Regions from separate parts of the Homo sapiens genome. Here region 2 is linked to region 1. Evidence: fine-mapped expression QTL. A gene starts in region 1. The other region holds a variant in brackets. All regions are shown on one strand. Distances are from middle to middle.

Evidence for each region. PIP is the estimated chance that this variant, and not a neighbour inherited with it, causes the effect.
Region 2: its variant is fine-mapped to the expression of DPH7 in whole blood (TOPMed, PIP 0.98).

Annotation. Positions count from the first base shown.
Region 1 is chr9:137,573,996-137,582,526 of GRCh38, forward strand. DPH7 (diphthamide biosynthesis 7) reads right to left here and starts at 4,930. Exons shown (of 9, transcript NM_138778.5): 1 at 4,630-4,930; 2 at 3,475-3,608; 3 at 2,085-2,172; 4 at 757-848; 5 at 213-385. The coding sequence starts at 4,782. ZMYND19 (zinc finger MYND-type containing 19) reads right to left here. Exons shown (of 6, transcript NM_138462.3): 6 at 8,086-8,531. RefSeq lists enhancers at 1,442-1,736, 1,666-2,475, 5,210-6,181, 5,276-5,335 and a silencer at 4,616-5,025.
Region 2 is chr9:137,829,654-137,838,184 of GRCh38, forward strand. EHMT1 (euchromatic histone lysine methyltransferase 1) reads left to right here. Exons shown (of 27, transcript NM_024757.5): 26 at 4,696-4,871; 27 at 5,120-6,474. The coding sequence ends at 5,300. Among named protein-coding and RNA genes, the nearest start is that of MIR602, 4.5 kb to the right of the region's middle. The variant A/T (reference allele first, on the strand shown) is at 4,017.

The sequences.
Region 1 (8,531 bases):
GTGGAGATTGCAGTAAGCCAACATCGTGCCACTGCACTCTAGCCTGGCAAAAGAGCAAGACTCAGTTTCAAAAAAAAAAGTACACTTTCCATAAAAGGTCTTCAAGATCCCAACATAACTGGAATCACAGCTGTGGCACAGGCCTCCCTCTCTCCCTCCGCCCCTTCCTCAGCAAGCCTTCCATCAGAGGTGACCGGTGGAGGAATACTGACCTGAATACACAATTTCTGGATGCCAGTAATTGAAAGCAGCAATCCAGGCCTCGAATTGATGTGCCTGCCATGAGGCCACTTTCTGCAGCCTGGGCCTCGTCTCATTCACCATCAGGAGGTGGAGCTGCCCTGTGGAGTCACTGCTGATGATCTTCAAGGGCTGGTCCCCGGCCCTAGACACAGGGAACCCATGAAGAAGCCCGGCAGAATGTTATTCGTCAGCCTCTTCTGGTTCCCAAACAAGTCCTGAGAGACGGTCTCCACAGCCCTGGGATGCGGATATGCCCCTTAAGAGACTGGCGGCTAAGATCACAACCACTGCTAAGCTTGTCAAAGACACCAGTGTCGACTTCTCTAGGTAAAAACACTATCGCTATGTATCTAAAATGGGGGACCTTTTTTTCATAATAGGACTGGCAGTGATGATGTCAGGGCTGAGGAGCACAGTCGCAGCTCGCTGAAGGTGGCTGGAGCCCTCTAGCCTGAAAAGTGGAAGTGGTTCTCAGAGAAAGACTCAGGACCCCTGACCAAGCCTGGCCCTTACCTTCCAGTTTTCCCAGTGGACCAATCTAGGGACAAAGCCAGACACTGCTCCTCCAGGGCAAGGCTGGACAATGGCTCCAGCACGTGGCTCTTCTACTGGAGAAGAAGAAACTCCATCAAAGGGAAGTAGCCGCCCCAGAACCCCCAAAAGACTTTTCCTCTCCTGCAGGGAAGTCATCGTTCCCTCATTTACAACCTATGCGAATGAAGTACATCAGTCACTGAGTCACACCTCCACCTAACACTGAAACCCCTGCTAGGGGCCCCGAGAAGACCTGGGGACACTGGAGCTCACACTCCTCACACTTGCAGGACAACTTTCCCACAGGCTTGATCTTGGGGCATGGTCTCCCTCCCTTTCACACCCCCTTGCCATCCTTGCGCTCCTAGATGCTGTCGAGATGCCTGTGCAGGCTCCAGACCACAGTGGCACACACAGTTTCCCACCCCAGGCCTCCAGGGCCACTGGAACACTCGCCTCCCGAGACAGAGACAATGGGGAAACTCCTCTGGTTTCCACTTCAGAAGCCGCGAGCAGCCATGAGAACGTGGTTGCTCTTTATGCAGATCTATATAAATTTCATTTCCTAAACAGCCTGGCCAGTGCTTAACTCCATCCCTGCTCCCAGCAGGCTGCTGTACCAAAGCCCTTTCCTGGGTTCATGCACTCCTCCCTTGGGCCCACAGCTTTCCTGTGGCTGCTCTTTCCCTCCTTTCTAAGACAGGGCAACTGCTCTAAGCTGCCTTAAGCAAGGCCTTTTCCTACACAGGCCCTCGGTTGGCCCAGCCCCGCCTGCAGCATCTGCATCGGAGTGAGGGCGTGGTTTCAGGCTGTTTACATCACCCCACTACGGGACATCCCCGTTCTCCTCCCCGACAGCTATCAGATGAAGTCACTTTGTTAATGCATGGCTCCAGAGCACTGTGAGAAACTCGGAAAAATTCACACAGGACTCACGTGCTTTTCCAATAATCAGTGAGAAATGCCATCTTCACACAGGATGCTCACTGCTACTCTGGGCCCCAGCATCAACCTAAGAATGCTTGCCCAGGCTCTCCTTAGAGAACTTTCAGATCCACTGACAGGTCAATGAACATCCTGTCACTTCAGCCCTTCTGCTGGTGACACATGAGGTGACTTCCTCTTGGAGTTGGATGTAGAACGCAATACAACTTAAAAATAGACTCCACATTATCTTAGAACGTTTATATATAGCTCACCATTGAAGAGAGATCGTTTTAGAAAAATGTCTGTATCAGCACAGCCTCCTCCCCAACCCTCTCTATTCAGGTCCCTTCTGCCCCACAGAACAAGTGCAAGTCACTGACCTCAGATTCCACCAGGCGGAGCAGTTGTATGGATCCACTGGCATCTGCCAAGCCCAAGAGGGCATGTCCAGCCACCGGGATGTGACACCTGAGGAGAGGGCCCACCATAAGCACACCAATGTGCCCGGAGCACAGGCGTGCACTGTGCGTCCCGGTAACCACAGTCACGCTTCCCTTAACAACGGGGCTGCAGTCCACGCAAACCCAGCTGGGACATCCTACTACACACCTTGATTATATGGTATGGCCCACTGCTCCTATGCCACAAACCTTACAGCATGTTACTGCAGGCAAGTGTGACACAACAGGAAGTGGTTGTATATCTAAACATAGAAAAGATACAGTAAGAATACAATATAAAGGATAAAAAACAGGTGGCCGGGCATGGTGGCTCACACTTGTAACCCCAACACTTTGGGAAGCTGAGGTAGGAGGATGACTTGAGGTAAGGAGTTCGAAACCAGCCTGAGCAACATAGCAAGACCCTGTTTCTACAAACTAACAAACAAACAAAAATGAGGTGTGGTAAGGCCAGGCGTCGTGGCTCACGCCTGTAATCCCAGCACGTTGGGAGGCTGAGGCGGGTGGATCACGAGGTCAGGAGATCAAGACCATCCTAATAACATGGTGAAACCACGTCTCTACTAAAAATACAAAAAAATAAGCCGGGTGTGGTGGCGGGCGCCTGTAGACCGAGCTCTTAGGGAGGCTGACGCAGGAGAATGGCGTGAACTCAGGAGGCGGAGCTTGCAGTGAGCCGAGACCGCGCCACTGCACTCTAGCCCGGGCGACAGAGCGAGACTCCGTCTCAAAAAAAAAAAAAAGAGGCATGGTGGCATCTACCTGAAGTCTGAAGTCTCAGCTACTCGAGAGGCTGAGACAGAGAATTGCTTGAGCCCAGGAGTTCAAGGCTGCAGTGAGCTATGATCACGTGACTGCATTCCAGCCTGGGCAACGGAACAAAACCCTGCCTCAAAAAAAAAAAAATTAAAAAGGATAAAAACTGGTACACCTGTATAGGGCATCTCCATTACGTTAAGGCACCACCATGGTATACGTGCTCCATTGTTGACCAAAACATAATTATGCCACACACCACTGCATTTAAATCTCAGCTCCAAAAGTGGGCTAGAGCCTACAACTGTGTTCTCAAACAAAAGACGCCCCAGGTTATGAAGTCAGAAAACTCCCATCACTTCCCCGGCTGGAACATGACAAAGGAAATAAGCCCCAGGTAAAGCACTCCCCAGGTGGAAGATAGGCGGGACAGCAAAGAAACAAATCCAAAGTTGAGATGCAATGCCTGTCTTGTTGAAGGCATCAGGCATCAGGCTTCCCTGATTGCTACTCATGACAAATTCTACACCCAGTGGGATTATCACAGTTATACCATTTCATGTCCAGGATTGCAGAAGTATCTTTTCTTTGGACCTCGACCAGAGGGTGAATAGAGTTGTTGTCATTGAAACTGTACAGGAAGAGACGGCCTAAACGGACCTGAGGCTCCTTAACTTCCATTCCACCCTACAAAAAATGCAGAGGTAGTCTCTGATTATCCCAAGACACGAAGGAACCCAAAGGATGGGAAAAGGGATCCAAGGAACTCAAAGGTTTGCCATGACTAAAGGAGTGGAATTCTGCCTGGAAGGAGAACCTCTGGTTTTCTGAGCTGGAGAAACGTCTATTAATGAGTAGGTGAACACTCCTGGACCCAGTAGAGAAGGCTCCTTCTAAACCGGCCAACAGGGACCAGCTATGGCTAGGGTAACCACAGAACCCAGTTTGCCTGGGACAGTCCTGACTTACGCCTGTTGTTCCAGTGCCCAATTTGGATCCTAATATGTACCCACCAGAAGTTAAGATATAATTCCCACTTTCTCTTTACTGTACATTCCACCCATTCCCTTGGGCCACACCTGTATATAGAAGACGTTCTGCTCTCAAGATTTTAAAGTTGGCCGGGGGCGGTGGCTCGTGCCTGTGGTGCCAGCTACTCAGGGGGTTGAGGCGGGAGGATGCCCTGAGCCCTGGAGTCCGAGGCTGCACTCCAGCCTGGGTGACAGTGCAAGACCTTGTCTCAGAAAAAAGTAATTTCTTTTTTTTGAGATGTAGTCTTGCTGTATCGCCCAGGCTGGAATGCAGTGGTGCGATCTCGGCTCACTGCAAGCTCTGCCTCCCGGGTTCACGCCATTCTCCTGCCTCAGCCTCCCGAGTGGCTGGGACTACAGGCGCCGCCACCACGCCCGGCTAATTGTTTTGTATTTTTTTAGTAGAGACGGGGTTTCACCATGTTAGCCAGGATGGTCTCGATCTCCTGACCTCGTGATCCGTCCGCCTCGGCCTCCCAAAGTGCTGGGATTACAGGCGTGAGCCACTGCGCCCGGCCGAGAACAATTTTTTTAAAAAGATTCTAAACTGTTTCCAGCCTACCTCCTGGCCAAAGGGCCAATATCCCCTCTTCATCTCCTGGGCGATTCGGTGCGCCTTTCGGCCTCAACCTCGTGGCCGGCCCCGCCCTCCCCTCCCGAAGCCGCGGCGCGCGCACCTTGTTCTGGGGGCCGGCAGGCCGGTCCTCCGGCCGCCGCAGCTGGTAGGTCCCGCACGCCAGCAGGTGCCTGCAGCCTTGCAGCGGGCACCACTCCACCGAGTCCGCGGTCAGCTCGGTGTCCACCGTTTGCAGGGCGAAACAGCCCATCATCCAGCCCTCGGGGAAGGGCGCGGAGCCGGCAGTAGAGGCGGGTCGGCGGGGCCGGGCTGGGTACTGCGCGGGGCGGCGAGGCCGGGGCCGGCCGGACGAGCGCAGAGCCCCAGGGACACCGTCAGCGCGGGCCGCCTCTCTCGCGACTCCTTCCGGGGTGCCGGGGCGGGACATCCGGCAGGGCCTTGGCCTCCGTGGACGCCCCTGGGAAGCCAGGCTCCCACGCCCCCTGTCGGCCGGCTGACCGCGGCGGGCTTCAGGCGTCAGACGCGCTGCTCCCTGCGGGGCCGTAGAGACCGAAGGCTTCGGGAAATCCGCTCCTCCACAAAGCAGGTTTGGAGACGGCAAGTTAGTGACAGAGCCGTAGGTTTGAAGCCGCCTCTGCAAAATTTCTATCACTGAGAAAAACCCCAACAGCGAGCTGCGGTAGCGCACCCCGTGGCGCCCTCCCGGTTACTCCTGGCCATCGGGCCGCGCTGACTTAACATTTAGGCTGCAGTTTCCATGACAGGCCTTGCCCCGGAATCAACGCCTTCGTAAAGCTGATGAGGAGCCCGCGCCCCACTAAGCCCAGCACCCCGAGGCCGCAGGCGCGCTCTGCCTGCCTCCTGTGAACCCGCCATGGCGGAGCTGCCCCTCAGAGACCGCCTTCCAGGGTCTTTGCTTGTCTGACACCCGTGGCTGCATCAGGACCCCCCAGAAGCGGCTCAGCAGGTGGACGGCTCCGACCCCTATGATTATCAGCACCAGTCGCCTGGCCGCCGCCCCCCTCCCCCAAAACTGCCTTTGAAAAAACCCCTAACCTAGGAGCTTTGGACAAGATGATCTGAGGACGAACTCCATCTCACATGTGGCCTGGCCGGCCCGTGTCTATTAATTTTTTTGTTTTTTTTTTTTGAGACGGAGTCTTGCTCTGTCACCCAGGCTGGAGTGCAGTGGCGCGATCTCAGTTCACTGCAAGCTCCGCCTCCCGGGTTTAAGCCATTCTCCTGCCTCAGCCTCCCCAGTAGCTGGGACTACAGGCGCGCATCACCACGCCCAGCTAATTTTTTGTATTTTTAGTAGAGACGGGGTTTCACCGTGTTAGCCAGGATGGTCTCGATCTTCTGACCTCGTGATCCACCCGCCTCGGCCTCCCAAAGTGCTGGGGTTACAGGTGTGAGCCACTGCGCCCGGCCCTAAACTTTTTTTCTTTATTGCAATCCACGGTCTGAATGTGTGCAGCGGGCAGGAAGAACCCCTTGGGCCGTTACAGGTTGAACTGTGCCCCCCAAAAAACAATGGACTGAAGACCCCAGCACCTCAGAGAGCATCCTTAACAAACAGGGGCTCTCAGAAGCAGCAGGCGTGGGCCCTGACCCAGAGGAGCAGGAGTCCGCAGAAGAGAAAGCTGATGCAGAAGACTTGCAGGGCCATTGCTGTGCAGAGCACAGGGAGGCAGGCAAGGCACCTGGCAGGGAGGAGGCGTCCGCACCTGAGGGCCCTTGCCTGCGCCTTCATCTGAGACTCCGGCCTCCAGAGCCTAGACTGTGAATTCCCGCTGCTTCAGGCTGCACAGCTCGCGCTGCTTTGTTGCGGCAGCTCCAGGAAGCTAAGGCGGACTTGACTGAAATATACGGGTGCCTGGGTATTCAGCCTCAGGGCTTCAAGCAGGGCTGTGGCTAAAGACATGGCAGAGAGCCAACAGCTCAGACCACCACAGAGACAGAGGCGCAGAAAAGGCTGGCCAGGAAGGCAGCAGGGCATTCCAAAAGGGCCTCAACCACACACCTCTGCGGGGGAGGGAGAGTGACCAGGTGCGCATCCCAACACACCACACTCCAAACAAGCTTTAGAAGCAGCCCCACATTGCAGCCATCTGGATGTCCTCACAGGACGTCTTAGATACCTGGCTACGAAGACCAAGAAGTCGGGGCCACGGAACGGGAAAGATGACCAGAGGATTGGGTATCAGGTGAGAGGGAAGCAGTGGTGGGGCCCGTCCCACCCTCACGGTGCCACCTGCTGGGGTGAGGCCTGGAGGAGCTGCCACATGCAAACCTAGAACCTGCACCGCCCCCTTCCCCAGCGTGGTGTCTCACAGGTGGGAGGCCCTGGGCGCTTCTTTCAGTGCACTTTTCTGATGAATGACTGCCAAACAAAGCAGCCCTGCTGGTCAGGGGCAACATGGCCACACCCCTGGATGCAGGTAAAGGGGACCCCTGCACTCCGTGCTCATCCTCAGACTCTATCTGAAAGCAGGCTGCCTGAGGGCACTCGGGGCTCCAGGCCTGAAGACTGCCCCAAACCCCAACCTGCTGACCCGCCATCTCTAGGGACACATATGTCCCCCTCCCTGGCAGCTTTCACCTACTCAGCAAAAAATGTCCCCAACCTTTGCAGCAGCTAAGGGGGCTTCTCAGGGCCTGATGTGGGCACATGCAGTTCTCTAAGCTCCAGGAAATCCTGCGGAGTTTGTTGATATCACCCATTTTCAGCAGTCCTGTTCTTCAGGAGCCCCCAGGGTACTGCCAGAAAAGGTACTGGAAGTTTTGCTTACAGACAAAAGCCAGCCCAGCCAGGGGCAGCAATGAGAACACACAGGGTGTCCTGGAACATGGCAGTGGAGCTTCAAGAAGGGAAAGTGTAGCAGCAACCTGTGGGACCAACACAGGGTCGGACCGGACCAGACCAGACAGGTCAGAGTCGGACTGGCCAGGCTTCCAGCTCCCAAGAAGCAAGGCCTCTGGCTGGGCGCACCTGGAGACAGGCAGGATCCCAGCCACACAGCCTGGCATGTTTCCCTGGGGCAGCTCTATGGGTACAAGATGCTGACCAGCCCCAGACACCTGGGGCTCCCCAAGGAGAGGGAGGGCTATCCTGGAAACCACAGCCCTGCAGACGGACGGAGAAGTGAGACCCTCACCTCACCCTGGCTGGCCAGCCCCCTCCACCATCTGCAGCAGGCCTGCTGAACATGCCCTGTGGATTCTTCTGGGCAGAAGCTCACTGCTGAGCTCCCAGCCACTTCATGCATAAATCAGGCAAGAACTAACCAATGTCAGGGGCGAGAGCATCCTACTCCCCATAAAACAGCGGGCAGCTGACTTAGCAACCCCACCACTCCTGCCGCAAGACAAGGACAGAGTCTCACTCATACTCCCTGCTGGACTCAGGAAGGTCTGAGCTCACCCGCTCCTCAGAAGGGCCCACCAGGAACAAGGGTCCTCCTGCCTCACCCACAAGGACTCGGCTCCACTCAAAATGACCTCACCCTAAGCAGCACAAGAGGGAGGCGGAGCAGAGAATGTCCGAGAGGCCAGATGATTCCACCCCTTTACTTTGCCTTTGTGGACACAACTCCCGTGCAGGCCGCGCTCCACGGGGCTCCCGGCGGCCCAGGGGAGAAGCTTCGACAACAGGACAGTTTTTAGTCACGTGGCCTGACCGTTTGCCATTTAAGGATTACAGCAAATGATTCTATTTGTAATTTCTACCCTTCCCATTGCCTCCCCCCCAAAAAAAACTGTACATGAGTTTACAAACATATTAACATATAAATAATGAGAACCGTCCTGGTGGGAGCCTCCTCCGTTGTCTCTGCTGGAGATGAACACTGAGGGGCGCTGTAACCACACAGACTGCCTGTGACATCGGGAGTCTCACGGCAGCTGTCCTGGGCCCGCAGCTGGCTTTTTTGGCACCTCCAGGTTCAACCACCAGTCTGTCTCTGCTGTGCCCAGGGTAGAGCCCGGGGGCTGTGAGTATGT
Region 2 (8,531 bases), 260 kb after region 1:
TTCTTCCTACCAGCAGCCCACACAGTGGCCTATGGGGGAGACTGGCCAACGGCCTGAGAAATCCCATGGTCCACATTTCTGTGTGCCCCCCGTGGTGTCACCTCACTTGTTCTCTTATCCCGTGTTTGCGGCCAGCTGGGAGGAAGGGCTGAGGTTTGGCGACACTCACACCGGGGCTGCTGTGTCCCATAGGGAGCTTTATGGCCACCTCGACTGGCCACCCCGAGCATCCATGCCTTCCCTGTTTATTAACAGACATTCTTCTGTTTAAATAAATAAACCTTAAACCTGGGCTTTGTGGTTACTCCTCAGAGAAAGGCAAGATCAATGCTTTATTCTTACCATTTAGTTATCAAGTTTCAGAGGGAGGAAGTAGCAGCAAAGAAATTTTGGTCTTTTTTTTCTTTCCTCTGTTTTGAGTGTTAATGTGGGCTCATGGATTTTTACTTTTTTTTTTTGTTTACATTTTTACATGTGTGTTTGATCAGTTATAGCCATTCTTATTTAATGGTCAAACTGCCCCATCTTTGGCCATGGGGAGCCCATGCAGGCGAGCCCGTCTCCTTTGGTGACACTGCTCTTCGGTACCATGTGACACCCAGGCCTCCCTTATGTTCCTTGCCCCACACTTGGAATCAGCCATTTCTCCAGGATGTCCTTGTGCTTTTGGAAGAGAAAGATTTTTAGACACTGAAATGAGACTCTGGGGTGCCCACTGCTGTCAGGGTGCCATGGGCTCTTGACTCACTTTTCAGAGGACAGAGTTATGAAGTAAATAGATTTTTAAAAATGTGTTCATGTTAATATTTCCAATTCAAATTTAACAGTGTAGAGTTTTTATCCAACTTCTTTGATTTTATATTTGCATCTCTTACAATAAAAATTTTGGTTTCTAAAATCTTTAGTTTCAAAATAGCACTCCAGATATTACCGATAACAGTAAGCACCAGTCCAGCTCCCGGATGGCATCTGCGCTTCTTTGCAGCGTCTCACTCCTTAGAACATGTCCCATGGAAGCTGGGCCCAGTCTTGTGCTTCGCGGCACCAGAAATGTTGCTTGTGTGATTGTGTCACTGGCTTGATAGGCAGTTACATTAATTTTAGTTCATTTTAAATGTTACAATTTAATTTTTTGTTTTTTGATTGTGTAAAATTTTTGCATGCTTGGGAAGTTCACACCCAGAAAAGCCTTGCTTCTCTCCATGTTCTCTGTATTCTGTTTCCTGCTGTCTTAGTCCATTCGAGCTGTGATAGCAAAACACTGTAAACCGTGAGGCTTACAAATAACAGGAATGTATTTCTCACTGCTCTGGGGGCTGGAAGTCCCAAGATGAAGGTGTTAGTAGATCTGGTGTCTGGGGAGGGTTTCCTGGTTCGTAGCCAGTGCCTTCTCACTGTGTCCCCACGTGGTGGAGGGGGTGCAGCAGTTCTCTGGGGTCCCTTTTATGAGGGCACAATTCCCTCCACTCCCATGACCTAATCGCTTTCCCAAAGCCTCACCCTAACCTTGGGGTCTCAGCCTGTGAGTCTGGTCGGGGGGCACACACATTCCAACTGTAGCACCTGCAGTAACCATCAGCAGAAATCGAGAAAAAATACTCAAGTAGATTTCTTATTCCTTCTCTTTTCTTACACAAAAAGTGGTAGAGTGTAGATAGTGCACGAGCCCTTACCTTTCTCCCGACAGGATTTGGGGAGAGTCATCATATTGTCCGTACATGGAAATCTTTCTCCTTCTTTTTGGGGCATTCAGGTTGATTTCAGCCCTTGCTATTTATCTCAAATAATGTTGCGTACAAGTCAATTTGTTTGACTTTACCTGTCATTAGGCAAATCTCTGAGATTCTGTTCATCCACCCAGTGATGGCTTCAGCAGCCAGTGAATTTCGATGTAGAATTTCCGTTGGATTCTTTTTCTGTTTCTCCGCTGAGACTTCTCATTTCTCTGATATTTTCATGCCTTGAAATCTTTCTTTGTTCTTCATTGAGGACAGCCTTAGGAGCTGCCTTGAAAATACGTGTCTGTTGGCCCAGTGTCTGGTTCATCTCAAGGCTGGACTCAGTTGAGTGTTCTTTCGGACGTGTTCGTTTCCTCAGTGTTTCAAGCGTCAGGTCCCTTGAGTTGTTCCTGTTAACATGTGGGGAGGACTCTGGTTTCTCTTCTGCGTGGGCCTTGTTTCCCTAGTGCGATTGGCTGGGCCCCTTCTGCAGGCCCGGCCTCTCTAGTGGTCCCTGTGCTTTCGCCTCAGTCCTAGGATTGGCTGGGCTCCCTCCACAGGCTCCGCCTCCTACGTGGCTGCTGCACTTCGCCCCAGTCCTAGGATTGGCTGGGCTCCCTCCACAGGCTCCGCCTCCTACGTGGCCGCTGCACTTCGCCCCAGTCCTAGGATTGGCTGGGCTCCCTCCACAGGCTCCGCCTCCTACGTGGCCGCTGCACTTCGCCCCAGTCCTAGGATTGGCTGGGCTCCCTCCGCAGAACCCCCCAACCCCACGTGGCCCCTGTGCCTTCCCTCCAGTCCTAGGATTGGCCAGGCTCCCTCCACAGGCCCCACCTCCTACATGGCCTGTGTGCCTTCATTCCAGTCCTAGGATTGGCTGGGCTCCCTCCTCAGGCCCCGCTTCCCACGTGGCCTCTGCACCTCGCTCCCGTCCTAGAATTGGCTGGGCTCCCTCCACAGGCCCCGCCTTCCACGTGGCCTCTGCACCTCGCTCCCGTCCTAGAATTGGCTGGGCTCCCTCCACAGGCCCCGCCTCCCACGTGGCCACTGCACTTTGCTCCCATCCTAGGATTGGCTGGTCTCCCTCAGGCCCCGCCTCCCACGCGGCCTCTGCACCTCGCTCCAGTCCTAGGATTGGCTGGGCTCCCTCCGCAGGCCCTCCCCCCACCCACCCATGTGGCCCCTGTGCCTTCTCTCCAGTCCTAGGATTGGCTGGGCTCTCTCCGCAGGCCCCGCCTCCCACGTTGCCTATCTGCCTTACTCCAGCCGTCCTTCTCTGGACTGTTGTCTTTATCTGGTTCTGGTCGGGCAGAGATTTGTGTCACAGACTTTGACACCCCACCCATCTTAGAAGCTCGGAGCAGCGCTGTGTGCTCTGCCAGACGAGCTGCCCCTGGTGAAAGCTGGGCCTGGCCCCTCCAGTCGGAAGCCCCTCACTCTCCATTTTGCTGCTTATCAAGACCTTCGTGTGTGCGCCGTTGCTAGTTCCGGAATTGCATTCTGCACGAGGAGGGGTCGCCTATAGATTCTTAGTCCATCAGACCCCGAAGCAGAGGCCAAAGTCCACGCCAGGTGAGCCACTCTGAACTCTGTTTCTTTGGGGTAAACCAGGAGGCAGCTTCCCGCGCCTTTGGCTTTGGGGGCTGTGGCTGGTCCTGTCCTGCGGCCGTGCTCGCCTGGTTTACTGTCTTGTCACTGCCCGCGCCGTGAAGGTTGACGGAGAGCTGCTCTCGTCCACGCCTTTACCCGCTTGTTGGTTTGGGTTTTAACCTCTTGACCTCTGAGCGTCCCTGGCTCTCTGGTTAATGTTCATGCTGGGGCAGGTTGTGGACCAGGTGTCTCTGCCGGCAGGCCCCGCCCTCTCGGAACTCGGTCCTGGAAAGCCCCAGGTGCCTCCTTCCCCGTCTGCCTGGCTGTCGTCTGTGGTGTTGCCTCTTCCCGTCGCTGGGTAACAAACCACGCCACCCACCCGCAGCTCGCCATGGCGGCCACCCACTCGGCCCAGTGTGCGCAGCAGGGGTTGGGCGTGCCGGGCCTCGGGCTGCACAGGCAGGGTGCTGCTGAGCCCAGGTCCCTGTGGTTGCGTGGGCAGCGTCTAGGTTCCTTGCTAGCTGCCGGCCGGGACCACCTACCTTACTCCCACGCAGCTCCTCCATCCAGGCCCCAGCAGCTCCAAGCCCTGGGTCTCCAGAGAGAATTGCTTTTAAAGGGGTTGCGTGGTTAGGTCAGGCCCACCCACCTCGTCCCCCTCTCTATGGTCAATTCAGAATCCATCATCACAGGCCAGTGCCAGGGGCC[A/T]GGGCCCAGGGCCATGTGGCCACCCGGAATCCTGGGCTCCTCTCCAAGGCACCAGGGTGAGGAGGACGCCTCAGTCTCTTCGGCCTCGTGTTCCACAGTCACATCAGCACCCGGAAGGGCTGCAGCAGAAGTCGTTTTCTGTGGGCAGCCTCCGCCTGACGGTCCTCCCTGGTGCCATTCGCCACTGAGTCTTCCCAGACCCTCTGGGGACTGCTCCGCCTCCTCGTCACCAAGACAGTGTGTCCCGGATGCCAGCTCCATCCCTCCCGACCCCCTCAGCCCCTGCCACTGCCTCACGGGGCTCTTGCAGCCCCGGCCTCCTTTCTCCTATTGGTGCCAGACAGCCCCATGGGTCCTCGGGTGGGATGGCGCTGTCCACATTCCACCGCGCTGGAAGCCCCATGGGGACGCCGTCAAGGGAACGGCCCGCACCACCCCCACCCCACCACAGACGGAGGCCCAGCGAGGACGGCAGGGTGCGGGGTGGGTGGCCACACAGCGAGGAGAAGGCTGGCGGAGGCTCCGCACCGCCGCCACAGGTCACTGGAGAAGGCCCCTCCTGCATGGCGGGCCTGCGCCCAACTGCAGGCTCCGGGACTGCCATGCATGGCCGTACCCGGCGAGGCCGGCGTGTCGGGGCCTTGCTAACTGCAGCCCGTGCCGGCTTCTCGCCCTGCAGGACGGGGAGGTTTACTGCATCGACGCGCGGTTCTACGGGAACGTCAGCCGGTTCATCAACCACCACTGCGAGCCCAACCTGGTGCCCGTGCGCGTGTTCATGGCCCACCAGGACCTGCGGTTCCCCCGGATCGCCTTCTTCAGCACCCGCCTGATCGAGGCCGGCGAGCAGCTCGGGTACGCACCGCCCCGGCCCCTGGCCATCTCCGCTGCCGGCGGGACGGTTTTAGGAACGGGGCTCGCATTGCTTTCCTGGGCTTGTCTCGGGTTTATGCTAGTGGTTTTCCTGTAGTTCTAAAAACTGCGACCTGGGATGCGGCACGGCAGATCGGGGTGAGGAAGCTTTGGCCTTGCCTTAATTTATCTGGCTTGTGGGAGGTGCCGGTGGGATTCGACTTGGAGCCTTGGTTCTGTTCCCTCCCCAGGTTTGACTATGGAGAGCGCTTCTGGGACATCAAAGGCAAGCTCTTCAGCTGCCGCTGCGGCTCCCCCAAGTGCCGGCACTCGAGCGCGGCCCTGGCCCAGCGTCAGGCCAGCGCGGCCCAGGAGGCCCAGGAGGACGGCTTGCCCGACACCAGCTCCGCGGCTGCCGCCGACCCCCTATGAGACGCCGCCGGCCAGCGGGGCGCTCGGGAGCCAGGGACCGCCGCGTCGCCGATTAGAGGACGAGGAGGAGAGATTCCGCACGCAACCGAAAGGGTCCTTCGGGGCTGCGCCGCCGGCTTCCTGGAGGGGTCGGAGGTGAGGCTGCAGCCCCTGCGGGCGGGTGTGGATGCCTCCCAGCCACCTTCCCAGACCTGCGGCCTCACCGCGGGCCCAGTGCCCAGGCTGGAGCGCACACTTTGGTCCGCGCGCCAGAGACGCTGGGAGTCCGCACTGGCATCACCTTCTGAGTTTCTGATGCTGATTTGTCGTTGCGAAGTTTCTCGTTTCTTCCTCTGACCTCCGAGGTCCCCGCTGCACCACGGGGTTGCTCTGTTCTCCTGTCCGGCCCAGACTCTTCTGTGTGGCGCCGCCGAAGCCACCGTTAGCGCGAGCTGCTCCGTTCGCCCTGCCCACGGCCTGCGTGGCTGGGGCCGAGTCCCAGGGGCCGCACGGAGGGCACAGTCTCCTGTCAGGCTCGGAGAGGTCAGGAGACCGACCCCACCACTAACTTTGGAGAAAATGTGGGTTTGCTTTTTAAAGGAATCCTATATCTAGTCCTATATATCAAACCTCTAACTGACGTTTCTTTTCGAGGAAGTGGCTTGGTGGGTGCAGCCCCCGCCGGTTCCGTTGACGCTGGCACCTTCTGTTGATTTTTTAAGCCACATGCTATGATGAATAAACTGATTTATTTTCTACCATTACTGAACATTAGGACAAACACAAAATAAAAAACAAAACACAGACAACGGTGCTGATTCTGGTGTGGTTTCTACTCACCACGTGAAATAAACTATCAACTGTATAAAGAGAACAAAGTGATTTTAGAATAAAATGCAGGAAAAACTTTTTTAAAGATGTTAGTCTTGTAGCGTGAATAAATTTGCCATCACCTTTTGTGTGGTGGCCTGGCAGGTCATATACTTTTTTTTGGCATATACCTTTTTAAAGACTGTAATTAGTGCAGTAACAGTGGGGTTTTTTTTGTGCAACTCTTCTAAAAACATTCATAATGCAGTCATGTTTATTTTTTTCTGTTAAAATGTTTTTGACAGTTTTAAGAGCAGTCTTTTGGCTCTGACCATTTCTTGTTCTGTTTCCAATGAAATCAATAAAAAAAAAGAAGTACTTTAAATGGGGTTTTTATTATGACACCATATTTCAGGGTCTCTGCAGAACTTGCAGGTCCCCCTGGACCCGGCCCAGCTCTCTGTCCCCTGTCCAAGGAAGTACAGCTTCCTTTTCACCCCAGATCTGTCCCCGAAGAGGGGACGTTCCAGGCAGAGGTTAGGGGAGCCTGTGCATTTGCGCACGTGTCGAATGAGTCTGTGTGTGTCCACGAATGCATCGTGCACGTGGTGCGAATGCGGGCACACTGGTGTGTGTGTGTGTGTGTGTGTGTTTGCATGTCTGTGTCTAGCGCCAGGTGCCCAGCTCTGGGCGTCATTCTGGAAGCCGACAGGGCACATCAGGTGAGTCCCACAACCAGAGGCAGAGCTGCACTTGAACAGCGAGGCCGGACAAGGGAGAGCCAGAGCCCGTCCTACTTCCTGCCAGCCATGACCCCCACTCCTCTACGGGGACCCCTAGACCCAAAGCCTCCAGCCTGCTATGTTCTCCATGCTGACTGGCCTCACTCACCACAGGAGGGCTTTTCGTGTAACCTCAGTAACACGCTCAGACACTCCACGGTTTAATACACAGAATTCACGCAGGTGTTTTTGATGCTTTTCCAGCACAGTCATAACTGCCCTGCACTTTGTGAATAGACGGCCCCAGCAGGGTGCGCGGTCGTCCAGCCTGAGGTACGAGTGCCTGTCACCAGACATTGCGCAACTGCATGAAGGACTGGGCAGGCGGACCCAGGATGGATATGGCCCACCTGTGACCCCTCTGCACAGGGCCACAGGGGAGGCCGCATTCCTCCAGGAGCCCAGACAGCCTACGGCCTTTCACGTCTGCGTCCGTGAGGAGGGGCTGTGTGGGGTGGGCTGGGTTCCCGCCAAGCCCGGGCTCAGGAGGGTGTAGGGGTCGCAGGTCACCTCATCCCAGAGGCAGTGGCAGGAGGTGACTGAGGGCCCACTGGAGCTTGAACCTCAGGCTCTGCCGGCTCCACCAGCCCTGCAGGGGGAGCAGCCCTGCCAGAGGAGCAGCTGGTACAACCCCTTCCCCTGGGACAGCCCGTAGCTGGCAGATGACTCTAATTAATTTTTGTGGCTTGAGTGTCCACCTGTTCTGCTCCGTGCCCTGGGTCAGCTGCTGGGTGTACAAACAGGTATTGGTTGAATTAAGCCAACAGCAAACTTTTTGGGTGTCACGAAGGCCCACCAGGGTGGCCCCACAACTGGGCCCTGTCACAGAAAGTTCCAGCCGTTTAAAATGAGCACCCAACACAGAGCCCACCTCACATGGTCCTGGACAGCTCTGCCGTGACCGCCTTGTCCCTAAACCAGACTCGGCTTGGGAGGAAGAGACCTTACAGGGCCTTTGCGCTGTGGGGCAGCAGCTGCACGTGCTCCGGGGAGTGCAGGCCTGGGAAGGGGGCTGAGGGGACCTGCGGCAGGTGCGGGGAACAGGCAGGTGAGTCTCACAGGGACCAGGTGGGCCGGGGCAGGGCAGGAGGCCTCCCCCTCCCCCTCCCCCTCCCCTCCCTCTTTCTCCTCTTTGGATAAATAAAAATGGAAAACCCATGCAGGTTGGCCCTCTGGTCCTGCAGCAGCCAGAACCCCTCACGTGGGCAAAGCTCCTAGCAGGTTCTTAGCCCACTTGGGCAGAGAGCAGCCTGCACCCTTGTCCTGGCCCAGGCTGTAGTCTGTGAGAGAAAACAGGCTTGTGGGGCTGGAGGGGAGGCCCCTCTGAGCTCACTGGGTGGGGGTCGGCCTGCTGAGGCACTCAGTGAGTGGACTTGGGTGTGACACTGTGGAGCCCAGGGGGCCCCAGCCGGGAAGGCCAAGGAGATGGCAGCAGTGCCCACACACAGTGGGTCCTTGTGCTTGCTGGCTCCTGGCACCCCCGCCCCCCACATGCAGGCTTGAGGGACCCAGGGCCCCTTTTTTAGCTCCTCCCCTGACCCATGGTGACTCGGGAACGTAGTTCCCCCAGGGCAGGGAACAGGGCTCAGCCTCCGGCCAGGCTCCGTCAGTCCTGGGAGTGTGAGCTGGGGCCTTCCTGGGTCAGTGCGTTCCGAGGGGG